Linked DNA regions of Homo sapiens: region 2 is linked to region 1. The links come from fine-mapping of genetic effects on gene expression. A gene starts in region 1. The other region holds a variant in brackets. All regions are shown on one strand. Distances are between the middles of the regions. Region 1 holds the start of MFSD6 (major facilitator superfamily domain containing 6). Region 2 has its middle 22 kb from the start of MFSD6.

The links. PIP is the estimated chance that this variant, and not a neighbour inherited with it, causes the effect.
Region 2: its variant is fine-mapped to the expression of MFSD6 in whole blood (INTERVAL, PIP above 0.99).

The regions. Positions count from the first base shown.
Region 1 is chr2:190,401,627-190,417,081 of GRCh38, reverse strand. It overlaps MFSD6 (major facilitator superfamily domain containing 6), which reads right to left and starts at 8,727. Exons shown (of 8, transcript NM_017694.4): 1 at 8,579-8,727; 2 at 1,669-1,790. RefSeq lists a silencer at 8,107-9,146 and an enhancer at 9,407-9,456.
Region 2 is chr2:190,378,192-190,393,646 of GRCh38, reverse strand. No RefSeq gene overlaps it. Among named protein-coding and RNA genes, the nearest start is that of MFSD6, 22 kb to the left of the region's middle. The variant C/T (reference allele first, on the strand shown) is at 7,701.

The sequences.
Region 1 (15,455 bases):
TTTTATTGCTATCTTTTTACAGATATCTCGTTTGCCCAACAAGACTGTATACCCCTCGAGGGAGGAATCTAGAACATAACATATTGCCCTTTACCCCTGTAAGCTCTCAATACTGTTTATTTTGACAAGCACCTGATGACAATAAACATATAAATTTTTATTAAAGTTTAATGTGATCAAAAATTCATTTTAGGAAGTAGAGTCAAAAGAAGTCCCAGTTGCATCCCCCTGGCTTTGATAAATCAGTGCCTCTTTAAGCCTCCTTTTCCATACAAACTTAAGTCAATTAACTCCCAGAAGGATTCTAGAGCTTAAATGAAATAAAGTATGAGAAAGCATTCTGTTAATCTAAAAGCAACATATGAACATTTGGTGTTGCTGGTAGTTGTAGTTTTATTCCAGATATTTCATTAAAACTCTGGGTCTTATTTTGCAATTATGCCAAAAGCACTTTTCCCAGAATTATTTGGCACCACCCTTGAACTAGGCTAGTATTTCATCCATCTGTGCTCATGAATTTATGTTCATGTCTGTTTTCATGTCTACAGCCTGATGGGGGCCTGTGAGGCACTGGTTCACTGGAGAACACACTATTGTAATATGGACTGGAATGATAATTCATTATCTCCAGGAAAGAAATAACTATTCACTTAAAATAAAATATTCTGTAGAAACATTTTACTTATATTTGTAACATCATAAATCTGAAAGAAAGGACCTGAAATCCTCTCTAACATTTCCTTTCAACTTGCTAACAGGGTGAAAAAGGAACAAATTATTTTGATCTCTTAAGGGTTGGAGGAAATAGCTTATAACCATAAAGATGACTTTAGTAATAAAGACCAACTAGATTTTCACTTTCACTTTGTGGAAGAAAATAATCAAATGTCAATTAAAAATTTATAATTTAGGTTCCTCAGACCTTATCAGCCATCATGAAGCAGATTCCTACTTATTAGTTTTAGACTCCTGATTAAATATTGTGCCAATATAGCATAATTTATAATATAAATTTGAAGCAGGCCCCAGAACTTCATTTCCTTCTACCTTTCAAATAAGCTTCCTGTCTTAGAACAAGCCCAGCGGGAGGAAAAAGTAACAGTTCACATTACAGAGCTATTCTAACACTATTAGACACTGAGGAAGTTAAGAGGGTTAAATAAAGCACAATCTATACACGAGACAAGGCAGTTTAAACAGAAATGTATGGGTGCTTCTTTCTCAGACCTTTTATGAGTTTACAATTGAGACCAGAATATAGATCTCAAGGTTTATAATACATTTTCCTATAGCCCTGGACTATCATCAGTTATTTTTACTTACATCCCCTAAATGTGCTATAGTCTAAAAGAATAATTTATATCCTTAGTACCTTCCCATATATGTAATCTAAAATTGTTTTATTTTGCTGTTAGGGTTCTGATAACTTGAGAATTACCATAAGCTATCAATTCTAATGATATAATTAGTTTCAGAAAAAGGTTTATTACTTAGCCCATAAAATAAAAAAGTGGCTGAGCACAGTGGCTCACATCCGTAATCCCAGCACTTTGGGAGACAGAGGCGGGAGGATCACTTGAAGCCAGGAGTTTAAGACCAGCATGGGCAACAAAGCAAGATCCCATGTCTACAATTTTTTTTTAATGAGTCAGGCATGGTGGTTCATACCTGTAGTTCTAGCTATTCAGGAGGCCAAGGCAGGAGAATCACTTGAGCCCAGGGGTTCAAGGCTGCAGTGAGCTAGGATCACGCCACTGCACTCCGGCCTGGGTAACTGAGAGAGATCCTGTCTGTAAATAAATAAAAATAAAAAAGATAGATACTTTAACATACATACCATACCAATAATTTTTAAAATGGAAATATTCAATGCTGGTGAGTATGAGAATTGACAGGCATTGTCATTCACTGAGAGTAAAAACATAAACTTTCTGAAAAGCAAAGACTTAAATGTAAAGATTTTTATTGCAACACTTTTCACAACAATCACAACTGAAACAAAGTAAGTGATCAATAATAAGGACAGTTAAATAAGTTATGGTGAAAATAGGTAAATAAGCTATAGAGAAAAATAAAATCTTATATCCATATCATGGGAAAATAGAACTTAACTACATGGTAAAATGCATCATGTTAAATGAAAGAGCAGGACACAAACCTCTCGATATAGTACAGTTTATATTTGTAAATCTATGTAGCTCAAATAAAATGTATTTTAGAAAAAGACTCGATAAAAATGACACCAAAGTGTTATCAGGGATTATCTCTGAGTAGTAAAATTAGGACTTATTTAATTTTTTTCTTATACTTGGCTGGATTTTTAAAAAATCATTATTTATCACTTTAAAAATACATATTTAAAAAGGAATTATTTTAAATATAAAACATTTGAGTGACAATTAGGATGTCCTTGTTCCCGGAGTTCCTGAAAAATTATAGAGTTATTAAATTGAGGTCTGATCATTCATCTAATGCCTTGTGCTTCCCAGTATACGGAATTGAAAGGGACTGTCACAAGGACTTTGAGACACTCTTAAAAGATATGCACACCTTTTACAGGGAGCCTCATTACACAGAAAATAAAATTGAAATGTGTCATGTTTACTCATTCAAAAGAATCATAATAAAGTCTTTTATTTAAACTCCCTTATAAATGTGAATTGGGGCATATTTGTTCATTAGTTAAACACAATTGCACAGGCATGATTTTGAAATAGAATTAAGAAAGGCACTCCATAATAGCTAAAGAAGCTTGCCTTTGCTGGATTGGAGCACGTTAATCAAGAACACAGCGCTTCTTTATTTTATGTTCCAGGACACATGTGCAGGACATGTGGGTTTGTTACATAGGCAAACGTGTGCCATGGTGGTTTGCAGCACCTACCAACCCATCATCTAGGTATTAAGCCCCACATGCATTAGTTATTTATCCTGATGCTCTCCCTCCCCCTGCCACCCAACCCCCCAGACAGGCCCCAGGAACACAGTACTTCTTAAAAGTCATAGGCAGCATGCATGTCACTTTGTATGATTCTGCTTTATGTGTTTGGTGTGGTGCCTTCCTCCTTTGCTCTACCTTGAGCCAAGTACCTTGAGGCCAAGTATGTTCTACCTTAACTTTGTCCCTAAAAGTGCCCTGAACAGTTAAGAATTCCCAGCGTGACTCACAGGGACCCACTCCTGCCACTGCTCCAGTGCTCAGTTTCTCCTGGAATCCTGGGCCCTGACTGCCATGTCTCCTCTTCACCCCACAGTATAGCAGGGCTCATGGTACATTGGTTTATTGGAGCTCAGAGAGAGCAGGCCCCGTGCAGAGTGGAGTGCACCTGCCTGTGGAACAAGGTCTCTCTACATAACCAACACAGACTGCTAACTACCAGTCCAGGCTCGCCACTCACTTTCCTTTGGCACGGTTAACCCACACATCGGGCTTGTTCAGGCAGCACCAGTTCCTCCTTTTTATCCTCCTCAAAGCCACACACCAGAGCTCACTCTGCCCACTGCTGATTCATAGTGTCCCTGTCTTTCCCTGTCTTTCCCCCATCCCACTCTTGGTCTCAGATCAAAATGCTTCCAAACATTTCCTCAGAGTCATTCAGAGCTGGCCTTTCCTGTTTTGTACTTGCCAAATGTTTCCTGAATTGGTCTCCCATTCTAAAACATGCCCCACAACAAATGTCAAAGAAAGACATCTCTGCCCCCCTTAATTCAATTTTTTTCCACATCTCTTGAACATGGTTTTTTAAGGGTCTGAATTTCTTCCCATCTTTGCCCTATTCTCCCCCATTCTACCCCGCCCCTCCCATCCTAAAATGCAGCAGGACCACCAGGTCACAAGGTAATACAGAACTCTCACTCACATCTCTTCAACATAATCATCAACACGTGGCTCAGCTAGATTTACATCATAATGGATCAAGGCAGGGAGAGGCTACTTTGAATACATACAACATTGGGATGTAGTTTTTGTTGGTGCTGAGGTAGAGGTGGGGGTTTGGGAGGGTGTGCTCTTTTTAAAGCCATAACATAGCAACCAGTAACTATAGCAGACACATATTAACATATAGGCTCAAGGTTTAGGTGTTCCACGTTTGTAATTATTTATTATTTGGTTGGCTTTTCTGTTTTGGCCCCTGCACCAAACATCACTTGTCTGAACAAATGACTGGTAGATTCCAAAAGTTGCCCAGCCAACTTGAGACAATGCCATTTTGCAAAAACAGTAAATAAATATCATCCAAATGTGGGCAATCAAAAACAGCTACAAAGCAAATGTTACTGAATCCAGCAGTGGGGCTAAGTACTGGATAACGTATCATTCAGAATTTAGGAAAACAAATCAGGCTGACACAAGCCCCTCTCACCCCCAAAATGCCAGTAGAGTAAATGGGAACAGACAGCTAATGTTGGATAATTAAACATGGAGGAATTATAAACTCAAAGGAAATGTTCTTGGTGGAGGCATTAAGGTGTTTTCATTGCCCCACACAGAATTGACATCAGATGTGTTTGTTTGCTTTTCCCAGGAATCAAAAATGCTATGCCCAAGGAAATGCCATGTTAGTTGAGTTTGAGGAAGAAATTTTACCCAAACTGGCCTTGTAGTAGGGTAGGACTTTGCACTTGATTTCTGCCTTTAAAGATAACCTATTGAACAAAGTTTCCTAAATTAAAAGATGGAGATTTCCTTCTGCCTAAAACATAATTAGAACCCAAAATGAAATGTTGGATAATACCTAAAATTGTGAGAATATCTCTTCTGTAAAATACTTTTACAATTCCCTCTTTCTCAAGATTACCTACTACCACAATGATAATTAACCAAGTTTAAGCATGTGTTTTCTTGATTCTGAAAAGTCTGAATGTATTATGGCTCTGGATTTCTAAGTCTGGAAATGTATTAATTTTTAAGGATTCTAAGCAGTGGTTTTAGTTAATTTTACATAGAATTGGATAGAACTATGGGACTGTATTTAACAAGTACATATGCATCAGATTAGTTTAACTTTATGATAACTTGCTTCTCCTAAATTGTTACTAAAAATAATTATACCTAAAGTCATCCAGAATGCCATAATTTCATGAGATGACACAGCAGGTAAATTGGTTTCTCCAACTCCTACCTTCTACCAGATTGTTCTGTACAGAACAATCATGCTTCCAAAGACAGCCACCACTAGCAAGACCAGGAAGAAAGAAATTCTTATCACCCCTAATCAAGCAGATAAATTGTGTATGCTCCAAAGCATTCTTATTGAGGAGGAAAACTGAGGAGTTGTAGAATATGCTACAGTTACTATTAGAAAAAGTAAAAGCCAGTCACCTGAGACTCTTTACCCTTTGCCCCCCAATTCTCAGTATGCCACCTTTCACTTTGATCTCCTGAGTCTCATTTCACTTCCCTAACATTAGAGTTTAGGCACATTCAATTTTATCTTACTTTGGATTGTTATAAAATCAATTAATTCTAGTCTTCTTTTGTTTTCCTTTTTAGTTTATATAATAAGAGAACACATGCTTGTTCCAAAAACAAAATTTTAAGCCCAAACATAACTTTATAAGGTAAAAAGCAAAAACATCCTCTTTTCTCCATCTTGTCTCACTTCCTGAAGATAGCCACTGTCGGCTGGGCGCAGTGGCTCATGCCTGTAATCCCAGCACTTTGGGAGGCCTAGGCAGGGGAATCATGAGGTCAGGAGATGGAGACCATCCTGGCCAACATGATGAAACCCCGTCTCTACTAAAAAAATAAAAATTAGCTGAGCCTGGTGGCATGTGCCTGTAATCCCAGCTACTCGGGAGGCTGAGGCAGGAGAATAGTTTGAACCCAGGAGGCAGAGGTTGCAGTAGGCCGAGATCGAGCCACTGCACTCCAGCCTGGTGACAGAGCGAGACTCTGTCTGAAAAAAAAAAAAAAAAACTACTGTCAACAGTTTGGGGACAAAAAGGCGTATGTGTGCCTGTATGCAGGTTTAAACAAATGTATATAAATTTCTTCTGAAGCTAGTTTTTTTTTTTCTTTTTTTTGAGATAGAGTCTCGCTCTGTTGCCCAGGCTGGAGTGCAGTGGCGCGATCTCGGCTCACTGCAACCTCCACCTCCCGGATTCAAGCAATTCTCTACCTCAGCCCCCTGAGTAGCTGGGATTCCAGGCGCCCGCCACCACGCTCAGCTAATTTTTGTATTTTTATTACAGGTGGGATTTCACCATCTTGGCCAGGCTGGTCTTGAACTCCTGACTTCGTGATCCACCTGCCTCGGCCTCCCAAAGTGCTGGGATTACAGGCATGAGCCACCTTGCCCAGCCATTTTTTTCATTTAATATACAGCATCTTGATTTTTCAGCCAATGTGCAAAATAGCTAGCAGACACACATTTTTTGCATTTCTTCCTTTCCCTATAATGAGATTGCCAAATTAAGATTTGCTGTCAAAGGAAGTAAAACAAAGAAACCTGTCAGCTTCATACTGCCTTCAATCTACAACTGGTGAGGACAAAAGGGTAAACATACACACATTAATATACATACGTAATAAATATATAAATTATCCTACATGGCTAAATGTTAACATAAGTAATACATGTACATTGAAATCAAGTTAATTTTCAAAGGCACGAAGCTAAGGAAGACATCTGCGTAGGTGGAGAGACTTAATAGGTTCTGATTAGGGAGGGACACCATGTGGAAATTTCCTGGGCTTTGGAGCCAGAAACATGAGGTCAAATTTAACTCTACCTCTTACTGATTATGTGGTTTGTGTAAGTTGCTTAACCCTTCTGAGCTTCCTTTTTGTCATGCACAGAACTAGGGGAAAGATTTATCTTACAGAGATTGAGATACTAAATGTTTACAATGGTGTCTTGAACATAATAAGTACCCAAAAAAATGCCTTAATACTGTTAATAGTCCAGACACTATATATGATGGAATTGGTGATCCAATACTCACACCACCAAATACCTGTGAACTCTGCTTTTTGTCTTTGTGTTTTATTTGCCTTCACGCTTTTATATTTATTTGTATAGAGATGGAAAGTGCCTTAGAAATAAACTGCTGTAAACATGAAGGACACACAACTACTTAGTAGCTTTAATGCATTATTGAAGTGATGTTCTCTCCTCCTGTTTCCCCAGAGCATCCTGCACTGGGCTCATTAACAATGTCCCATCCTTCCCCTAAGCAATCCTAAATTTTACTTACACCTCGTGATAAATACAAGCCATCTGACTATCACTAAACAGCTGACCATATCCTGCACCTCTGCTAGCAGCTTGACGTGTCAAAAGCCAAGCTTCCCAAAGAGGAGGATCCTATCCTTTTACTTAACAAGGCTAAAACAGATGCATACACTTTTAGCTGGCTAGTGCCCACATCTTGGGGAAAGGACCTACCAAGTACACATCTCCTTTTATTACATATTTTAGTCAACTGTATGTCCACCCACCCTTCACATTCATCTATACTTAAGAGGTTAGATTTCTAGAAAATCATGGACTTCTAGAAGGATTAGGGGAAATTTTGGCCACTATAATATCCAACCATCCTCTTTTCCATGTGAGAAAACTGGGGCTCAGGAAGATGTGACATGCCCAAGCACACACATCTATTTAAATACCAGTTGGGATTAGAACCCCAACTCTTTAAGTCTTTTGCACACTAATAAGCAAGGTATTATATGTTCCAGTAGTTCTGTGAGGTGCTTATTCAATCTTTTTGGGATGAAAAGAAACGTCCGTGGTTGCGAATGCATAAAGGTAATTAACCCACCTGTCTGTCCATGTGGGGATGGGATTAACGAGGGGGAAAGTTGCGTTTGTATTTTTCCACCATCTTACCTAAATTTGCAGGAAAATTGCTCTATGGGCAATAAATATGACCCAGAAAGACTAGCAACCCCCAGTAGTATCTCAAAAGGGCTCCAGAGACATGTTAGACCAAGTGGAAGTAAAGCACGAGGTGGGGGATGTCTGCTAGGATGGTGGCTGGCAGAGCAGAGGTATTTTTTTTTCCGTATTTATTAACCTGGGAGGGCAGACGTTGTCAATTTCCTCCTCCTGCCACACAAGTGGCCGCGTCCTTGTCACTGGGGCTGTGTGGAGGTTCTCACCTCCTCCTTTTTCCCAGGGATGTTTATGGCGAGGGCGCGGGTCGGCCCGGGCGGAGGAGGACCCGGGCATCGGCGCTCACCCTCCGTCCCCACCCGCGGCAGCAGCTGTGGGCGCCCGGCGAGGGCTCCCTGGGCAGCGCCTTTGTTTTCCCGACTCCAGTTACGTTTGCGGAAGTGCTGCCAGCACGGGGCGCGCTGGGGGCGCAGGCGGCAGCCTCCCCCAGCACCCCACAAAGATGACACCCGACACGGAAGCCGGGGGAGGGAGGGAGGGAGGGAGCGGCGGGCGAGCGAGGCCCGAGCGGAGACAGCGGCGCACGCTGGGCTCCGAGCCCCGGCCCCGAAGCCCCTTTCCCGGCAGCAGGTGTGCGCGGCTGAGGTGCCTACCCGCCCTCCGGCTGGGCCCGTGCGGGGCGGGGGAGGCCAGGGCGGGTCTGCGAGCCCCTTCTCCGCAAGCCGGGCCCGACTCACCTGCTGCGGCGGCGGCAGCGCTCAGCTGCGCGGGGCGCGGGGAGCCCTGTCCCCGGAGCACGGGGCGGCGGCTCGGGGCGCCGGGGCGGCGGCTGTCGGGGCAGCGCGCACCATCCCGGGCTGCTCGCGCGCTCCTCCGGGGCTGCGACGGGCTGGGCGGGGCGCGGCGAGGCGAGGCGAGGGATGCGGACCGGGTGGGGCCACGGAGGACGGAGGCGGAGGGCCCAGCGCTCCCGCCGGCGCGACCTTCTCTCCCGCTGCGGCTCCTCCTCCTCCCCGGCCCCGGCCTCACAGTCGCCGCCGCCGGTCACTACCGGCTGGACCCGTTTCAGGGCCGGGCGCTGAGGACCGGCCGCCAGGTGCAGCGCTCCGCCTCCTGCGGCGGCGGCGGATGCGTCGACTGCCCGCTCCCGGCCTCCAGCCCGCCCCGGCGGCCCGGAGGGACACCTGAACCCAGCCGGGCCCGGGGAGCACGCTGAGGAGGCGAAAGCACTGGGCGAGGCTCCATCCCTACCGCACCCTCCACCCCCCCGCACCCCCAAGCGACTTCCGCTGAGCCCCCAGGCAATGAGTGCGGGCCAGGAAATGTGGGGGAAAATGTACTAACATCCCTTATTCCTTGAGCGCCTTTTAAGTGGCACACACAATGCTAATGCTGTCAGTGCGTTATCTCCGCGTCTGTCCCAGGTTGACCCGGGAGGGAGGAGCCGGCGGGGTGCGGGAGACAAACGATCTGTGAGTTTCGGGGCTCACCAAGAAGGGGGAACACTGAGACGAAGGCACCCTTTTTCAGGAAGCTGCTACTGGCATCTTGCTGAAAAGCCAACCGTGTGTGTCGCACTAAGAATATAATTAAAGTTGTATTTCTAGTTAAACACGCAGAGAGTTGGGGGAGAGTGGAGTATTCACTTGGCAAGTATGTCTGTGTGCCTGTGATGGGCTTTGGGGGATGCCACATCCTGTTCTTAAGGAGTTTATTGTCTTGTTCTGGCAACAACGACAAGAGTGACAATGGTAGCTAACGGCAACAACGACAAGAGTGACAATGGTAGCTAACGCTTATAAACATCGATTATGTACGGGGCACTGTGTAGGTACTCTTTGAGCCTTATAACCCTATAGGTGTAGGAAACGTTATTCCCATTTTACAACTGAGGAAAGCCGAGGCTGAAAGTTAATGTGACCCATCCAAAGTTACTAAACAGCGAAAGGGAAAGCAGGCTTCTTTTGTCTCCAGGCTTTAAGCTCTTAACCGTGAAATCATACTGGTAAGAATTTGATAGGCCCTGAAGTTTCTGAATTTTGAGTCCCTCTTTAGGAAGAATAAAACAATTACAAATACGAAGTTTCTAGGGCCCCTTCCTGAGCTTATGAAGGGTCTCTGAAGCTTAAACTATAGTAGCCTCATGCTAAATCCACTTTCAATATTGACGTAGATATTCAATCATTTCTTTCTCCAGGCATTTCTTTCTCCTGTCAGGAACACGAGACACTGGTCCCCTCCTTGAAACTCTTCCCTTCTCTTCTTTTGGTGCTCCGTAAGTGTTGGATTTTCCTCCTTGAAACTCTCCCCTCCTCTGCCTTCTGTGACCCACAAGTCTTGGGTTTTCCTCTTCCTCTCTGGCCACTCCCCTTTGCTCCACTTGAGTTTTAGTTTTCCTTGGGTTTTGTTCTAGGCTTTCCTTTCTTCTGATTCTGTTTGTTTCTGCGAATTCTCTCACTCCTTGGCTTCAATCACAGAATATTTGAGGGTGCTCCAAAAGCCCTCTCTCGGGGTCAGCTTTTCTCCTGAGGGCCAGATCCTTATGGCCAGTTGTCCAGTGGGATGTGTCACAGGCACCCCAACCTCACTAAGTGCCACGTCAATGTTTCTTTACCTTCTGTTCTTCCCCTACTCGTTTTTTTTTTTTAAGATGGAGTCTCACTCTGTCGCCCAGGCCGGATTGCAGTGGCGTGATCTCAGCTCACTGCAACCTCTGCCTCCCGGGTTCAAGTGATTCTCCTACCTCAGCCTCCTGAATAGCTGGGATTACAGGCATGTGCCACCATGTCTGGCTAATTTTTGTATTTTTAGTAGAGATGGGGTCTCACCGTGTTGGCCAAGCTGGTCTCAAACTCCTGACCTCAAATGATCCCCCCACTTCAGCCTCCCAAAGTACTGGGATTACAGGTGTGAGCCACTGCACCCGGCCCCTCATTCACTCTTGCTTCTGGGTTCCCAGACTCTGGGGTCCCAAACAGCCATCCACCCAGTTGTACAAGGCCCTTCTTCTCAATGCTCCTTTCACCCTTATACCCATGCCCAGTGTATTAGTTACCTATTGCTGCTGTAACAAGTTATCGTAAACTTTGTGGATTAAAACACACATTTATTATCTTACGATTCTGGAGGTCAAGAGTCCAAAATGGGTTTTAGTGAACTAAAACCAAGGTGACTACAAGGCTGTATTCTTTCTGTAGGCTGTAGAGAATAACCCATTTCTTTTACCTTTTCCACTTCTAGGGGCTGCTCACATACTTTGGCTCATGGACCCTTCCTCCATCTTCAAAGCACACCACTCTAACCTCAGCCACAATCCTCACATTGCCTTTTCTGACTCTGACCCTCATTACATTGGGTTCACCTTCATCATCTAGCGTAATCTCCTCCTTTCAAGAATCTTAATCCCATCATCAAAGTCCCTTTTACCATGAAGCATATTCACAGGCTCCTGGGATTGAGACATGGACATCTACAGCGGGCCATGACTCTGTCTATGACATCCAGTCAGATGCCAAACTCTTGATTCTACCTTTTCAAATATCTCTAGCACCTGTCCTCTTCTCTCCATCCCTGTGCTATCCTAATCTCTGTTATCTCTCCTTTGCCTGCAAAATTTCTCTGGTCTCTCTGCCTCAAAATGTTCTCTCATCCAATCAACTTTTCACTTTGCCACCAAAGTAATCTGTTTTCTTTTCTTTTCTTTTCGACAGGATCTTGCTCTGTCACTCAGGCTGGAGTGCAGTGGTGTGATCATAGCTTACTGTAACCTCGAACTCCTGGGCTCAAGGGATCCTCACACCTCAGCCTCCCAGGTAGCTGGGACTACAGGTGCATACCACCATACCCAGCCAATTTTTAATTTTTTTTGTACAGGTGGAGTCTCACTATGTTTTAGGAGAGGAGCAATGTTGGCTGGTTGCACAGCTAGGAGGTACAATACAATGTGAAGGGTGCCTCATGGTGTTGCACAATCCTATGAGACAGCAAAGAAATTACATGGTAAGGTGTTTGTAAAGATTCTTTTGGTGTTGGGCGTAGTGGCTCATGCGTGTAATCCCAACACTTTGGGAGGCCAAGGTGGGCGAATCACTTGAGCCCAGGAGTTTGAGACTAACCTGGGCAACATGGCAAACCTCATCTCTCAAAAAGTACAAAGATTAGCCAGGTGTGGTGGCATGCCTATAGTCCCAGCTACTAGGGAGGCTAAGGTAGGAAGATTGACAGAGCCCGAGAGGTCAATCTCCCAACCTTAGCAGTGAGCCATGATTACACCTCTGTACCCCAACCTGGGTGACAGAGTGAGACCCTGTCTCAAAGAAAAAAAAAAAAAAGTAACTGTAACCAGTAGCAAGGAGAAAGGTTAACAGTGGCATGGACCACAGTGGTAGTGGCTGGGATGGAGAGAAACAGATAGATTTGAGAGTTTGGGGAAGTATATGAGCATACTTGGTGATATGTTGCATGTGGGAGGCAAGGGAAAGGAGGTGTTAAGAATGACTCACAGGTTTCTGGCTTGAGCAACTAGGGAAGATTGTGATAACCTTTACTGAGAGGGAGGAGACTGTGGGAGGAGCAGGCTGGAAGGAAAAAAGGAAGAATTCACATTTGACTCAGTGAGTTTGAGATGCTTGTGAGCCTTGCAGGTGGAGCTGTGAAGTAGGCAATTAAACTTGAGTCCACAGCCCAGAAGAAAGGGCTGGATTTGGCAGTCATCAGTATTGAGGTACTATTTACAGTCATTGGACTGAAGGGGATTACTCAGGAAGAGAATAGACTCAGAGAGCCCAGAGAAGGGCCAACATTTACCAGTTGGTATAGGAGAGAAAACCAGGAAGGATCAGTCAGAAGTAGAAGGCAATTCAGGAGGATGTTGTCACTGAAGACTATAGAAGAGTTGTTTCAAGCAGGTGTAAGTGGTTTGCACTCTCTCTCTCCTCCATATCCTAGACAAAGCATTATGTCCTCCATAGACTGGCTTTATCGCCCCTCGGTGGCTTCGTTTACCATGTGCCTTCTCTATCATGGCATCTATCATATACTATTGTAATCATTTGTTTAACTTCTATGCTAGATTGCAAGCTCCTTAAAGACAGGGGGAAACACTATGTTGTTCAACATTTGTATTATTTAGCATGGACAGTAGTCCATTGGAACAGCCCACATACAGTGGTTTAAATTTTTTTAAAAAGTATGATTTTCCCTCATATAAAAGTTTAGGTAAACATATGTAACAAACCTGCACATCCTGCACATGTACCCTGGAACTTAAAAAATCATAAAATTAAAAAGTTTAGGTAAATAAGTGAGCCCATGGTGTTGGGACTCGAGATTTATGCTCTTTTGATCTTGTTGCTCTGTCATCAAAACCCAACATGGCTGCCCCAACTCTTACTCTCATGTGCACATTCCAGCCATTGCAAAAGGGAAAAGGGGAAGGGGAAGGCATTTTCCTTTCTTTTAAGAATATGGGCCGGGCGCAGTGGCTCATGCTTGTAATCCCAGCACTTTGGGAGGCCGAGACGGGTGGATCACCTGAGGTCAGGGGTTCAAGACCAGCCTGGCCAACGTGGTGAAAACCCGTCTCTACTAAAAATACAAAAAATTAGCCAAGCATGGTGCAATTGCCTGTAATCCCAGCTACTTGGGAGGCTGAGGCAGGAGAATCACTTGAACGCAGCAGGTGGAGGTTGCAATGAGCTGAGATCGCACCACTGCACTCTAGCCTTGGCAACAAGAGCGAAACTCCTTCTCAAAAAAAAAAAAAGAAGAAGAAAAAGAACATGACCAGAAGTTGTACATATGTACATATTACTCGTTTAAATTCCAGTAGCAGAACTTGCTCATATGACCACATCTATCTGCAAGGAAAGCTGAGAAATCTAGTCTTTAACTCAGTATCCATGTACACAGATAAAAATTCTATGACTGTGAAAGAAGAGAACAGACACTGGGTGCAACCAGCAGCCCTGATATACCATTGTAACTGTATCATAGAGCCTGACTGTTGGAATATGCTTGTAGAGCATAGAGAAAGGCAAGGAAGGATAAACACCCCACTCTTGACATTAATTACCTTGCGGGGAGGAAATGGAAGGGGCATGGAAGGAGAGTTATAAATTATTTGTTGACTGAATGGATGATAATAAATGGATAAATCCAATGGTGACAGTAGTGATGAGGTGAATTCTTTTTAGCTCCCTCTCCCACCCTCCCTCCTCAGCATTGGCTTATGAAGGAAGAGGGACTTTCACTAGACCAAAAAGATGAGTTATGTAAACAGAAGGAAAGAAGGCTAATTTATTTAAATCTTTTATTCTGATATCTTTTTTGCTTAATTCTCTTGAGTTTTCTAGGTGGGTGATCATATTAAACTACAAACAATGATACTTTAGTCTCCTTTCCAATATTTATATCTATATTTAAAATCTTACTATGTTGACAAAATAATAGTAAATATTGGTGATGATCAACAATTGTTCCTTTTCTTACTACTTTCTTTACTACAAATATCTCTATTGCTTTGCCACTGAGTATGAGGCTGGCTATTGTTTTGACATAGCTATTTTTCACTAGGTTAATCAAGAATCTTTCTATATATGGTTTAATACAATCTTTAAAAATTAATAATACATATTTGAATATCATTTCCTTCATGTACTCTCTAAGATTTTTTTTTCTTGTTCATTCCCAATCCAGTTCCACATTATGTGGTGTTTATTGTCTACTATTTATGTACTTAAATGGCAATAAATCTACTTTAGTGAGGCAGAGAGTTAGGCCCTGGATATAGAAGTATAAAATCAGGTCCCTTCCATCAAGAGGCTTGTGATTTACTAACAGGGACATGTCTACAAATAGATCAGTTATAATTAACATAATTATAATAGCAGGCAACATATGCTATGAGTGGTACGCAGATTAACTTTTCAAAAATATCTCTTCTACCGTGTTCCTCCTCCCCTAAGAAAAATCCATTTGGTCCCTATGGCTTAAAGCAGATAGTCCAAAATCTTTAATCATCTTCAATCAAACACTAAGTTCTGCCCATTGTATCCTCTCAGCATTGCTATGTTTCACCTACCCTATCCCTATACACACCACTCCAACTCAGGACCTAATGCAGCTGTCTCCATAGTGGCTTCCCTGTTTCCAGCCTTGCACCTATCTAATAGTAAGCAAGGCACTTCAAATGTATCTCAGTTATGTGGTTTTAAAAAAAACAAATTATATTTTAATTTTTAAAATTTTTTATTAGAGTATAACATACATACAAAAAAGTACACAGATCATAAGAGTACAACTGAGTTACAATAAATATAATAAAAACTGTGTAATCACCACTAATTGCAAAAAACTGAACATTACTAGCACTCCACAAGATCCCCTTGTGACCTTTACAAATTACTACCTCTTTCTTTCTCCCCAAAGGTAACCACCATTCTGATTTCTAACCCCACAGGGTAGTTTTGCCTGTTTTTGAACTTTATATAAGTGGAATCAAAGAGTATAAAATCTTTTGTGTTTGATTTCTTTTTTTTTTTTTTTAATTAGAGACAGGGTCTTGCTATGTTGCCCAGACTAGTCTTGAACTCCTGAGCTCAAATGATTCTCCTG
Region 2 (15,455 bases), 23 kb after region 1:
AGGGAGACCCTGTCTCCACAAAAAACTTTAAAAATTAGCTGGGCATGGTAGCATGCACCTGTAGTTCCAGCTACTCTGGAAACTGAGGTAGGAAGATTGCTTGAACCTGGGAGGTTGAGGCTGCAGTGAGCTGTGATCGCTATACTGCACTCCAGCCTGGGTGACGAGCGAGATCCTAACAAAAAAAAGAAAAAAGGAATTCAAATGTTCTAGAATATTCAAAGAAACTTTGAAAAAGGTCAAAGTTGGAGGACATACACTGCCCAAATTCAAAACTTATTATAACCTACAGTAATCAAGATACTGTAATATTACTATAAAGACAATCAAAGAGATCAATGGAATAGAACAGGGAGTCCAGATATCAGACTTACAAATATATATGGTCAATTGATTTTCAACAGAGCTACCAACGCAATTCAATAGAGAAAGATAATGTTTTCAACATAAGTGCTGGGACAAATGGATATTCTTATTTAAAAAGTAAAGCTCAATTTTACCTCATGCCATATATGAAAATTAACTGAGAGCTGGAGCAGTGACATGTGCCTGTAATCTCAGCTACCTGGGAGGCTGAGCTGGGAGGATTGCTTGAGCCCTGTAATTTGAGACCAGCCTGGGCAACATAGCAAGACCCCTATCTAAAAAATTGTGCAAAAAAATTATTGACCTAAATATAATAGCTGAAACCATCAGATTCCCAGAAGAAAACACAGGGGAAAACTTGTTACCTTTGTCAAGCTTTCTTAAATAGGATATAAAAACACAAAAGTATGAAAAGAAAATAATCAATACATTGGACTTCATCAGCATTAAGAATGTTTGCTTTTCAAAATACAGTGTTATAAAAATGAAAAGGCAAGGCACAAAAAGGGAGAAATTAGTTTTAAACATATATCCAACAAATGACTTTTATGTAGAATATGTAAGAACTCTCACAACTCAACAGTAATAAGACAAACAACAAATTTTATTCTTTTGTTTAAAAATGAACAAAATTTTTTCAAATTCACATGAAGACGTATATGATTGTACATAGCAACTTTATTTGTAATAGCCAAAAACTGGGAACAAGTCAAATGTCCATCAACATGTGAATGGATAAGCAAATTGTATATTCATACAGTAGAATACTACTTAGCAATAAAAAGACACTTTACCAAAGAAAACATATTGATGGCAAATAAGCACATGAAAAGTTGTTCATTATCAGTGGTCATTAGAGCAGTATTTTAAACTGGGCACAATTTTGCCTCTACATGCCAGATACATTTGGCAGTGTCTGGAGATACATTTGGCAGTGTCCCCTCCCCACAAAGAATTGTTTGGTCCAAAATGTCAATAGTGATAAAGGTAAGAAACCTACATTAGGGAAACATGTCAAAACCACAGTGAGATACCGGTACATATGAAGAAGAATAGGTGAATAAAGAAATAGGTAAATAAAAAGCAGCATACCAAGTGATGAAGAGAATGTGGAACAAATGGAACCTCAGACAAAGCTGGTGATTCTACCACTTTGGAAAATAATTTGGCAGTTTCTTGAAAAGTTAATCATAAATCTACCCCAGCTATTCCACTCCCAGGTATATCCCCAAGAGAAATGAAGGCATATGTTCACATGAAGACATGTATGAATGTACATAGCAACTTTATTTGTAATAGCCAAAAACTAGAAACAAGCCAAATGTCCACCAACATGTGAATGGATAAGCAAATTGTATATTCATACAGTATAATACTCAGAAATAAAAAGAACAAGCTACTGATGAGTGCATTAACGAATAAACAAACACACACAGATGAATATAAAAATAGTTATCATCAGTGGAGAAAGCCAGACACCACTACATCCCAAAAAAGAGTCCGGTATAATTCCATTTATAAAACTCTAGAAAATGCAAACTCATCTGTAGGAACAGAAAACAGATCAGTGGTTCCCCAGGAATGGAGGTCAGGGTAGAGTAGGGAGGGGAAAGAGAGAAAAATTACGAAGGGGCATGAGGAAATTTTGGAGCATCATAGATATGTTCCTTACCTTGATTGTGGTGATTGTTTCAGGGGTAAAACTTACCAAGTTGTATACTTTATGTGCAGTTTATGGTATGTCAACTGTAATTCAGTACAGCTGGTGGGGGGCTTGACTCGTGTTTTGTTTGAGTAAAATCATCCCATTTTCTCCTTGTCACTACTGACTGGACCATATCTTTTTTATAAGCCAAGCACAACTCCACCCATGCCAGGGGAGGAGGCTGACACCTGTAGTCCCAGTAACTTGGGAGGCTGAGGTGGGAGGATTGCTTGAGCCCAGGAGTTTGAAGCTGCAGTGAGCCGTGATCGTGCCATTGCACTTCAGCCTGGGTGACAGAGCAAGATGCTGACTCTAAAAAGAAAACCTCTGTCCAGTAGGAGTGCCACATGTTGAATGCTACCAAAGGACCCAAGATATCATACAGCAAATTAGGAAATTTTCCTTCCTTGCTAGATAAGGTTACAGTTTATTTTTCATGACAAGCTCTCATTACTAAGGATAATCGGTGCATGTTAAGGAGCCAGAAAACTGTACCTACTTAAACTCATCTTCCACATTCTTCCAGAACTTCTAGCCAATGCAAAGAAAATAAAATATGGATTATACATGTTGGAAAGGAAGAAACAAAATTATTTGTGCTATTTGATTATATATCTAGAACATTCAGGAGAACCAAACTGAAAAATTATTAAAATTAATAGATTTCTATAACATAGCAAGGCACAAGATTAATATATAGAATTCAGTATTTCCTAAATATTATTTTAAAACAAACACTGTAGGTGTGGGATGGGGAGAAATGACACCATTTGGAATAACAAGAAAATCTTCACTATCTGGTCACTTTCTCTAGATATTTTCTAGTTTTTCTGTATCCCTCTCAAAGTGTTATATTGGCAATAAACTAAAATGTATTTATTATTATTTCTTTCTGGAGAACCTATTGCTGTGATATCCAGAGTGTCACCATTTCCTATCGATTCAGCATAATACACTGGTTTCTTTTCCATTCAGGAAATCACATAGAACAATGTTCTATATGCCATAAGCTATGGCTTGATTCATCTTACCATTTGGTTGTCTGGGAATTTACTGAGTTACTTTAAACTTAAATGATCCTTCTTCAAACTAGATATTTTGCTATATGATAGTAGACTTATATAATTCAGGAGGAGCTGTGTAGGTAAAACAATATCTTAATAATTGCAGATTTAACAATAAGGAAACAGATATTTGTATACTCACTGACTTGTACAAATAGCAAATAGAATTTGGATGTTTTTACTGCATGATATTTTAAAATATATATCAACATAAAAGCCTGAAACAATTAAAAATGCTTTGATTACTTAAAATCAAATAACATTTATTATTAAAAATATAACAACTGTTCATGGTGAGACCATTAGTCTGAGGGCACTGAGTCCCCTCACTGTGCACAGATTACTCAACTTTTCTAGGTCTGAGAGGCTGTAATATAAAATAAATAAGCTGGGAATTGGTATCTGAAAGGTCTCTTCAGCTAAAAATTTTACTATTCTCCATAATCTGTATAAATCAAGTGTTTTCATCTTCTTGGTTTTAAAATATTTTGCAGTAAATAAAGTTTCCCTTCAAAGCAAAAAGCCCTGAGTGGTAAACATAAGTTTTGTGTTGTTGCTATTGTTGAAAATTTGACTGTTAATAGCAACATTTTTCTGTGTATCCTATATTAAAAATATTATGATATGGCACATAGAGAATGTAAAAGGAACCATATTCCATCCTCACTCAGCTTGATTGAAAGTTGACACTCTACTAAGTTTAATGTTGCCAAAATCAAATAGAAATAAAGTTTCCATCCTTAAATACCAACACATTTTTTTCAAAATTTATTTTTATTTTTTTGAGACAGGGTCTTGCTCTGTCACCCAGCCTAGAGTGCGATGGCATGATCACGGCCACTGCTAACTACAGCCTCGACCTCTCAGGCTCAAGTGATTTCTTTACCTCAGCCTCCTGAGTGCTGCAACCGCAGCTGCATGCCACCATGCCTGGCTAATTTTTTTATTTTTATTTTTTGTAGAGACGGGGACTCCCTATGTTGCCCAGACTGGTCTTGAACTCCTGGGCTCAATCAAGCATTCTTCCCGCCTGGCTTCCCAAAATGCTGGGATTACAGGCATGAGCCACTGTACCTGGCCCCAAGGCATCATTTTTTATCATTGATAATAAATAAGTAATGAAATATCAATAATTGAGCAATTATTCAGTTAATTATTAGGCACCCAAAGTTCTGGTACAGTCCTTATTGAAATGGGGTGATACAGAGCACAGAAAGAATACGCCATGATATTAAGGAAATTGCAGTTTCAGCAGAGAAATAAATAGATAAATAAATATGTTTAAAGCATATTCCAGGCCGGGAGTGGTGGCTCATGCCTGTAATTCCAGCACTTTGGGAGGCTGAGGCAGGTGGATCACAAGGTCAGGAGTTCGAGACCAGCCTGGCCAATATGGTGAAACCCCGTCTCTACTAAAAATACAAAAAAAAAATTAGCCAGGCATGGTGGTGCATGCCTGTAATCCCAGCTACTCGGGAGGCTGAGGCAGGAGAATTGCTTGAACTAGGGAGGCGGAGGTTGCAGTGAGCTGAGATCACGCCACTGCACTCCAGCCTGGGCAACAGGGTGAGACTCCATCTCAAAAAAATAAATAAATAAAAATAAAAATAAAGCATATTCCAGGAATGTTTATTTGGGGGAAAGTACATATCAGTATTCAAGTAATCCCCCTTAAAATATTCTTGCATAATACCACATGTAATACTCCTTTGAAGATAACTAGATATAGGAAACTCTCTCCAGTGTCTTAACATTCACGTCAAATAATTCTGGTCATATTCATTCACTCAATTATTAATTCAACTAATATTTACCAAGTATCTACTTTGTGATTTACACTGTTCTAAGTGCTGGGAACACAGCCATATATAAAACAGACAAGGTCTCTACTCTCATCAAGTTTATATTCCAGAGAATATATATAACTTGTAGCCCAAATGTTACTTTTTTCTAAATGAAATGTTGTATCAACTTTTATATCACTGTTTTCCCTAGTTATAAAAGTAATTCTTGCTTATTGCAAACAAACAACAACCATAATAGAGAAAATGAAGATACTTTTGTAGGCCCTCCCTTTGGCATAATTACTGTGAGTAGTTTGTTGTATATACTTAGATTTTTAAAAATATTTTTTAAATTTACAAACTGGATCACTCTTCTATAAATTGCTTTTTTCACTTAGCAACACAGTATACCATGTATATCTTTTCATCCCAATGCATCTAGATCTAACTCCTCTTTCTTATTGGCTGTATAATATAGCATTATATTTAGACATTTTATTTCAACCATTCTTCTATCGATGATCATCAAGGTTATTTCCTGTTTCTTCATTATGATTAGTGCTCAGTATTTTGCTTAAAAAATCTTTACCTAGCCCAAGACATTTGCAAATTCATATTGAGGGACTTAGAGACAGAGAAAGAGAACTCCTGCTTGCAGCTGCCTCACTGGCCTGGTGAGACAGAAATTGGAGTTTAGGGACTTTGAGCAGCCAACATCGAAGGGCTTCAGATCTCAGAGAAAAGGGGAATGTAGAGCAGGAGCTTGGTGCTCTGCCTGCAGTTTCACTGCCTACCTGTTATTCTTTCAAATCCTTTTTTGTGGGGGATGGGGTCGAGCAGGAAGAAGGCCTTGAATGCCAAGCTAAAGCCTAGGAGCTAGCAGAAAGTCACCAGAGTTATTAGGGAAACAAGGGCCTAAGAATCAGTTCTACAATGTTGGCATTGGAAGGGCCTCTTGTGACTATCTTACTAATGAAGAGACTGTAACACAGAGAGTTGTGCCCCACCTACAGCCATATATCATCCACGGCAGCAGAACCCCTAATGTAGGCTTCCTTAAACGACTGCCGATGCTCAAAGCCCTGCTGGCAGTGGGTGTGTGTGTCTTAGTATGTTTCTGCTGCTATAACAAAATACCTAACACCAGGTAATTTGCAAAAAAGAAAATTTATTTCTCACAGTTTTGGAAGCTGAGAATTTCAAGATCAAGGCACCAGTAGATTTGGTGTCTGGTGAGGGTGGTGCTCTGTTTCCAAGATGGTGCTTTGTTGCTGCATCCTCACATGGAGGAAGATAGAAGGGCAAAAAGGCAAAAAGGGCCTACCTGGTTTCCTTGAGCCCTTGACTTTTTTTTTTTGAGATGGAATCTCACTGTGTCACCTAGGCTGGAGTGCAGTGGTGAGATCGTGGCTCACTGCAACCTCTGCCTCCCGGGTTCAAGCGATTCTCCTACCTCAGCCTCCCGAATAGCTGGGATTACAGGTGCGTGCCACCACACCTGGCTAATTTTTGTATTTTAATAGAGACAGGGTCTCACCAGGTTGGCCAAGCTAGTCTCGAACTCCTGACCTCAAATGATCCACCCGCTTTGGCCTCCGAAAGTGCTGGGATTACAGGCATGAGCCACCGCACCTGGCTCCTTGACTCCTTTTCTGAGGGCACTAATCCCACTCATGAGGGCAGAGCTATCATAACTCCTTAAAACCTCTTAAAAACCCTGCCTCTTAATATTGTCACTTTGGGGTTTAAGTTCCAACATATGAATTTTGGAGGGACGCATACATTCAGACTGTAGCAGTGTACTAGCATGGGTCAGAGGCAAGAAGAGGTCTTGCCAAAGTGGTGATGTGGAAGTTGAAATGAAGAAAAAATGTTGAAAGTCAGGAAATGGGGAGAGAGCAGGGAGAAAGCCCCTACATGAGAACAGAACTTCAGAATTTTTCCTCAGGGAAGAATATAAAGGGGAGATCTATGATCAGAAAACCATAATACTGGAGTCTAACTGGGAGCCAGGGTGAGGGGGAGAGGGAAGATGATTACTTTGGGACCTGTTGTGTTCCATGGACTGGCAAGACATGGAGGTGGAAATGGCCAGTGGGCAGTTGGAAATGTGGGTTTGGAGTTGAAAAGAGAGATTAGGGCTTTTTCCTATTCCAATTTATGCCTTCCTTCCTTTCTTCCTTTTATAAATTTGGGGATCAAATATATAGTCATAGTTGAAGCTGCAGAAATAGATGGTATCTTTAGGTGAAAATGCATAAAGAATGTATATATTTTTAAGTATACATATTAGGCCTGGCATAGTGACTCACGCCTGTAATCCCAGCACTTTGGGTGGCTGAGGTAGGTGGATCACCTGAAGTAAGGGGTTCAACACCAGCCTGGCCAACATGGCGAAACACTATCTCTACTACAAAATATAAAAATTAGCCAGGCATGTTAATGTGTACCTGTAATCCCAGCTACTCAGGAGGCTGAGGCATGAGAATCGCTTGAACCCAGGAGGCAGAGGTTGCAGTGAGCCGAGGTCACGCCACTGCACTCCAGCCTGGGCAACAGAGCGAGACACTGTCTCAAAAAATAAAATAAAATAAAATAAAATAAAATAAAATAAAATAAAATAAAATAAAATAAAATAAAATAAAATAAAATAAAATAAAAGTATACATATTTGAATTTTACAGCTGGGAGTGGAAGCTCATGCCTGTAATCCCAGCACTTTGGGAGGCCGAAGCAGGCGGATTGCTTGAGCCAAGGAGTTCAAGACCCGCCTGGCCAACA[C/T]GGCGAAACCTCATCTCTACAAAAAATATTTAAAAATTAGTGAGGTGTGGTGGCATGCACCTGTAGTCCCAGGTACTTGGGATGCTGAGGTGGGAGGATTGCTTGAGGCTACAATGATTACATCACTGTTCTCCAGCCTGGGTGACAGAGCAAGACACTGTCTCAAAAATAATTTTATACTTAAAAAATTTAATATAGGGTATCTGATTCATCATGAATACTAGATATCACGGCTGGAATCCCAGAAAAAAAGGTCATCTAGATTTTACTTAAATGTGTCTAATATCTGTAGGATTAACAGCAGTTAGAATGTGGCTCATTGTGTGGCTGGACAGCTCAAATCCTTCGAAAGCTTCTTGAAGTTCAAACTTCTATTGAGTTCACACTTCTCTATAATGTTTCTCACTGACTGTAAAATACAACTATTTAAACTTTTTTCTACTTTGCATCATAAAATCATACAAGTCAAGTAACACAGTGGCCTTCACTAATTACATACAATTGGCCAACTAATCTCATCAGCATATGATTAGTTCTAAAGAAAGCAATAGAGTATTAAAACAACCTGATTTACCTTTTTTACGTATTAGATTTTGAAAGACTGATATCATCTAGTGTTGGCAAGGATATAAGTAACGAGCATTCTCATCCTCTGTTGATGAGAGGTTGTTTTGTTTTGCTGCTATGTTGTCCAGGCTGGTAACTCCTGGGTTCAAGTGATCCTCTTGCCTCAGCCTCCCAAAGTGCTGAGATTACAAGCATGAGTCACCACACCCGACTGATGAAGGGTTAATTGGTGTACCTTTTCTAGAGGGCCCTTTGTCAATAGGTACCCACATTTAAAATGTACATATTTGATCTAGCAGTTTTACCTCTAAACATTTATCTTGGCCAGGCACAGTGGCTCATGCCTGTAATCCCAGCACTTTGGAAGGCCAAGGCAGGCATATCACCTGAGGTCAAGAGTTTCAGACCAGACTGGCCAACACAGTGAAACCTCGTCTCTACTAAAAATACAAAAATTAGCTGGGCATGGTGGCAGTCACCTGTAATTGCAGCTACTTGGGAGGCTGAGGCAGGAGAATCGCCTGAACCCTGGAGTCGGAGGTTGCAGTGAGCCAAGATTGTGCCACTGCACTCCAGCCTGGGCGACAGAGCAAGACTCCATCTCAAAAAACAAAAACACAAATAAAAACATTTATCTTAATGAAACAGAGAATTGTTCAAGTATGTACATTATCAAGCATGTTCATTGGCTCTTTATTTCTTGTAAACTTTTGAATTGATTTAATTATTCTTCTAGACACAAGTCCTTCATCAGATATGTATTACAAATATCTTCTGCCATTCTGTGGTTTGAATCTTTATTCTTTTACTCATAGAAGAAAAACAATTCTAGGAACATTGGCTAAAATGTTCTCAGTAGCTATGCTTGAATGTTGGATTTTTCTCCTCCTTTTTACTTCTCCATATTTTTCCAGTTTTTTAAGGATTATTTAATGACAATTTAAAACACAATAAAGGGAACGAATTGGTTAAGGAAGATGGTTTATTTAAAATGATGCAAGCTGGGCGCCGTGGCTCATGCCTGTAATCCCAGCACTTTGGGAGGCCAAAGTGGGTGGGTCACTTGAGATCAGGAGTTCGAGACCAGCCTTGCCAACATGGTGAAACCCCGTCTCTACTAAAAATACAAAAATTAACCGGATGTGGTGGTGGGCACCTGTAATTCCAGCTACACGGGAGGCTGAAGCAGGAGAGTCTCTTGAACCTGGGAGGTGGCAGTTGCAGTGAGCCAACAGAGATCACACCACTGCACTCTAGCGTGGGCAACAGACCAAGACTTTGTCTCAAAAAAAAAAAAAAAAGGGTCGGGCGTGGTGGCTTACACCTGTGTAGTCCCATCATTTTGGGAGGCCGAGGCAGGCAGATCACAAGGTCAAGAGATCGAGACCATCCTGGCCAACATGGTGAAACCTCTTCTCTACTAAAAATACACAAAAAATTAGCCGGGCATGGTGGCACGTGCCTGTAGTCCCAGCTACTCGGGAGGCTGAGGCAGAGAATCACTTGAACCTGGGAGGTGGCAGTTGCAGTGAGCCAACAGAGATCACACCACTGCACTCTAGCGGGGGCAACAGACCAAGACTTTGTCTCAAAAAAAAAAAAAAGGGTCGGGCGTGGTGGCTTACACCTGTGTAGTCCCATCATTTTGGGAGGCCGAGGCAGGCAGATCACAAGGTCAAGAGATCGAGACCATCCTGGCCAACATGGTGAAACCTCTTCTCTACTAAAAATACACAAAAAATTAGCCGGGCATGGTGGCACGTGCCTGTAGTCCCAGCTACTCGGGAGGCTGAGGCAGAGAATCACTTGAACCTGGGAGGTGGAGGTTGCAGTGAGCCCAGATCACACCACTGCACTCCAGCCTGGGTGACAGAGTGAGACTCTGTCTCAAAAAAAAAAAGAAGAAAAAAAAAATGCCGGGCGCGGTCTCACACCTATAATCCTTGCACTTTGGGAAGCCTACGTGGGTGGACTGCCTGAACTCAGGAGTTCCAGACCAGCCTGGTCAACTTGGTGAAACCCAATCTCTACTAAAAATACAAAAAATTAGCCGGGCGTGGTAGCTCTTGGCTATAGTCCTAGCTACTTGGGAGGCTGAGGCAGAGGAGAACCACTTGAACCCAGGAGGCAGAGATTGCAGTGAGCAGGGATCCTGCCACTGCATTCCAGCCTGGACGACAAAGCCAGACTGTCTCAAAAACAAAAACAAAAAAACATGATGCAGTTAAAAAGTGACCCATTGAAGAAGTTAGCCAAGACAAGATGTTTGCCACAATTTGCCTTTAATGTTGCATCTGCACCTGCACAAATCTGCTAGAGACACCTGGTGGAGAGTGTTGATAGGTTTACAGCAAGTGTTAGAATGTGCTGAATGTACTTGCTTACTTACAAGATGAGAAATGTACTAATGCACATCCTGGTTCCCTTATTAACTCAGCTTTCAAATAACTGGAAAGAGCCTTCAGATGGGGCAAGCCTAGCTTGCAAGTGGGCTGTGTTTGGGCCTCACTAGCAAATATGACAAAAATTTAGATAGAACAAAAGACAGTAAATTCAGAAGTAGAACTGGGACTTATTTGGGGCTGGCTACATAATTTGTGAGACCTAGTATAAAATGAAAATGTGGGGCTCCTTGTTCAAAAAGTAGGGAGAAAAGTATCCTTACAGGCACATAAAGGAAAAAGAGTTTTACTCTCTTCCATGGTCTCTCTCAACTTGACATGGTTTTTGGGTTTTGGGAGTTTTGTTGTTTTGTGTTTGTTTGTTGCTGTTTGATATCATTATAGATAAAGAAAAATAACAATTTTAATGATTAGTCTGAACTTTAATATTCATGTTTACCTCATGCAATGCCAATTTTTCTTTTTTTCTCTCTCTCTTCTTGCTCTGTCGCCCAGGCTGGAGTGCAGTGGTGCCATGTTGACTCACTGCAACCTCTGCCTCCCAGGCTCAAGTGATCCTCCCACTTCAAACTTCTGAATAGCTGGGACTACCGGCATATACCATCACGCCCAGCTAATTTTGTATTTTTAGTAAAGATGGGTTTTGCCATGTTGACCAGGCTGGTCTCCAACTCCTGACTGCAAGTGATCCACCCGCCTCGCCCTCCCAAAGTGCTGGGGTTACAGGTATGAGCCACCGTGCCCAGCCCAATGCCAGTTTTAAATGCAGATTGGAGAGTATTTAACTCATATGTGGTATCACCAAAATTACATAAATCATTTTTCACAGTTCACACATGAATATATATATTGTTCTTACCATAACAGTGAAAACATTGCAGGAAACTAACTCAACTCTTTTTATTTCACTTCTTGATACCCCGGCATTCTACCAGCCCTCCCTACCTTCAGCTTACTGGCAAGGAACTGAAAAGGAAAGGAACTATGTGTGGTCCTATCTTTACCTTTCCTTTTGTGCCATCATTTCAGCCTATGTGATTGGCTAATATAGGAAAATAGCACAAATAAGAAAGGACATGGGAGGTTTCCTTAGTTTTCCTGTTTCTTAGAATGCCATTGCCTTGTTTTTGCTTTGGAAGCAGGTTCTGGTTCTGGGAACTGTCAGTGCCCCCACTTGCTCAGTCATCAGCAATGTAATGCACTTACCATGCACTTGCTTTGAGTCTCATTGAACCCCCATACAACATAGGTCCACAAGAATTCTGTGCTCACAGGTGCTGTGAACCCTATGTGACCAGAACTGCAAGGGGACGAAGCACACACATTTTGTACATTTCTCCTCCTATTTGGTATGGCTACAATAAGAAGATGATCAAAGTATGATTTCAGGAATCACATGGTTTATTGCCATACAAAGAGATTCTTTTTTTTAATGCTCAAAGAGGGGGGAAATAACAAGAACAAATCTCGCAGAGATTATACTCCGCAGATGAGGTACATTATCCACATAATTAGTTATAATTTCATTTCAAGTCCAGTGATTACAGTTTAGTTGCTTAGAATGGAAGTAGGCCTCTGTGGATGTGAGGGAGATCCGAGACAACTTGTAAGATCCCTGGACACTAGCAAGTGGTGCCAGTGCTGTGTGGGCTGGCGAGGCTTTGAAAGCTAGCTCAAAGGCTGACAGAGATTAGCCCTGTTGCAGCCTGAGCTCTCAATCTGTCTGCCAAAATCTTGGGTTTATATGTGTTTTGGAGTCTAGTCGTTGAGGCCAATAACTCACATATGTGGTCTGGAAAAGTGTGATGTAACATTCTGACAGGGAAGGGGACTATGCTCCATGTTCTTATCACAGCAAAACATCTGTCACTTAACGCAGAAAGTGTTTGGAATATTTTCAGAGCTACGTAACACCTCCATTCATGCACATGCTCCATTGCCCCTCCATTCACTTACAAAACTTATGAATTTGAAGGTAAAATTTTTAAGAACTTCAACATGGCAATAGCAGAACCAAGCATGGCACATTTTTGAGGGTGGAGCTTTGTGAGCCGGCACAGGTCATAAGACCATATAGCCAGCCCAGGACTGGTTTGCTTTTTGCAAATGGGTAAAGGGAGAAAGCTCTTAATCCTACATGTTCAAGGCTCCTTTAAGATGAGGAACTTTGAAAATACAGGCTAGAAAAGAAAAATCATATTTAGAATTATAGGCATTTTGTTAGAGCCAGAACTTGGGCTAGCCTTGAGTATCAGATAGAAATAATAAATACATAAAACCTGTTTTGGCTGGGCGCGTTGGCCCATGCCTGTAATCCCAACACTTTGGGAGGCTGAGGCGGGTGGATCACCTGAGATCAGAAGTTCAAGACCAGCCTGACCAACATGGTGAAACCCTGTCTCTACTAAAAATACAAAAATTAGCCAAGTGTGGTGGCGCATGCCTGTAATCCCAGCTACTCTGGAGGCTGAGTCAGGAGAATCACTTGAACCCAGGAGGCAGAGGTTGCAGTGAGCCAAGATCATGGCATTGCACTCCAGCCTGGGCAACAAGAGCGAAACTCCATCTGAAAAAAACAAACAAACAAACAAACAAAAAACCTTTTTTAAAGGTGTCCATGATCAAAACAGCCGCTCCATCAGACCAGTTTCAAAGGTCTATTTGCATGCATACCCAGGCTTTGAGTTCCCTGGCATTTTAGGAGGACATTTGCAGTTACTTAAGTTTGCTTTAGAAACATGTTTTTCAACCTACCTGCCAACCCAGGTACAATTAGAGCTGCTCAGCATGAATGGTAAAGGTAACAACTTACTGTTTATGCTCTCTTTTTGCATTTAGCACTTAAAGAAAAACATAAAGAAGAAAACTTGGAAATAGGAAGAAAAATGTAGAAAATGTTTGTTTGTTTCTTTCCCATTTGGGCAAACAGCAAATGTGTGCCTCCGTATTTTATCTTTTCTGCCATGGGATGGGCAGTGCTGTTTTTGGTACAGTAGGGGTGTTTAAAGGCTGATGAAAATAACAGCATACTCCGGGCTGTGAATATGAGGCCAGGAGTCATGCCCAGTTTGTGGCCTGCGCTGAGTGTACAGACTCCTTAAGTGGAATGGCTCAGCAGAGTGTATGTACACAGTAGAGATGTGACATAAGCTCGTCTGCATTCTGAGCACTCAACACACAGAGGCAGAAGGTGTGGTTGGAGAGGAGGGGTCAGCAGGCGTCCAGGCGAGTTGCCAGGGTCAAGATTCTCAGCGATTTCTCATAGGTCTCATGAGAGGAATAACTGTACTTGCATTTCTCTTTTATTTCCATTATGCTTTTGTTGCTAGGAAGTTCCTTTTCCTTATCATCTTGATGAATGCACATATTTAGGGCACTTTTAATTCTTTGGGAGATGAAGTGGATAAATGCATCATAAGTAGATAAGTCAATGTGGGTAAGAGTTTAAATTATCGGGCTATGAATGTCATGAGACCTCAGTGATAAGTCCAAGGGATGTAATCAGAGGGTAAAAGCTGGGACAGCTCAGTTGTGGTGAGTGATAGAGATTGCTAGTTGTCCTCAAATGCCTGTTTCCTGGGTGCTAAAACTCCTAGTTTTTGGCTGCGTACATGGCTTCTGAGAATGGAAGCTTCCCTTGTAGCCGCGTGTACTCATGTGACAAGGTTCTGGCCAAAGGAATGAAAAATCATTCACCCTTTTCTTGTTCTTTGTCTTTCCCTCTATCTTGCTGCCCAAAATGCAGATCCTGTTGTCACAGTCTGGAGATGGGAGAGCAGTGAGATGGAAGGAGCGTGAGTTCCTGAGGACTTTAGGATAGAGCCGCCTTTCAGCTCTGGACGCACTTACCACTCCATTTCCCTTAAGCGAGGGAGAAATCACTTCTATCTTACTTAGGCCATTGTTATTTTGTCATTTCTGCCTCTCCTAGATAAGCCTATTGGTTACTGATACAGAGTATTACTGCAGACTTATTCTTGCTGGACTTCCTCCGAACACAGGGCTCCCTTAGGGACCTGTGTTCATTGAGGTTCAATAGTTTGTTTTTCATACTCCAATCATTTTAACACAGCAGAAAACCCTTTACGAAAATACTCATGCCTTGGCACTTCACAATCTCATGCCAGGAGCCTGTTACAAAAGGGGTCAGGAGCCACAGCAAAAGATTGGCAACTGATACCCAGTACAATGATCTTCAGACTCTACTGAGTGTAGGACCCAGTCCTTAGGAACAGTTGGGCTGAGTCAGAGATGATGCTAAGTAGAAGCAGATGGCTGGCGGAGTAACAGGCAAAAGGAAGTGTAGAAAATGTATTAAAGGCTGGGCGCGGTGGCTCACGCCTGTAATCCCAACACTCTAGGAGGCAGAGGCGGGCGGATCACGAGGTCAGGAGATGGAGACCATCCTGGCTAACACAGGTGAAACCCCGTCTCTACTAAAAATACAAAAAATTAGCCGGGCGTGGTGGCAGCGCCTGTAGTCCCAGCTACTCCGGAGGCTGAGACAGGAGAATGGCGTGAACCCGGGAGGCGGAGCTTGCAGTGAGCCAAGATCGCGTCACTGCGCTCCAGCCTGGGCGACAGAGCGAGACTCCGTCTCAAACAAACAAACAAACAAACAAACAAAACAAAACAAAACAAAACAAAACCCTACAAATGTATGATTCCATTTATCTGAGGTACCTAGAATAGTCAAATTCATAGAGACAGAAAGTAGAATGGCGGTTGCCAGTGCCTGGTGGGGGGATGGGGGAAATAGGGAGTTATGTAATCGGTATGGAGTTCG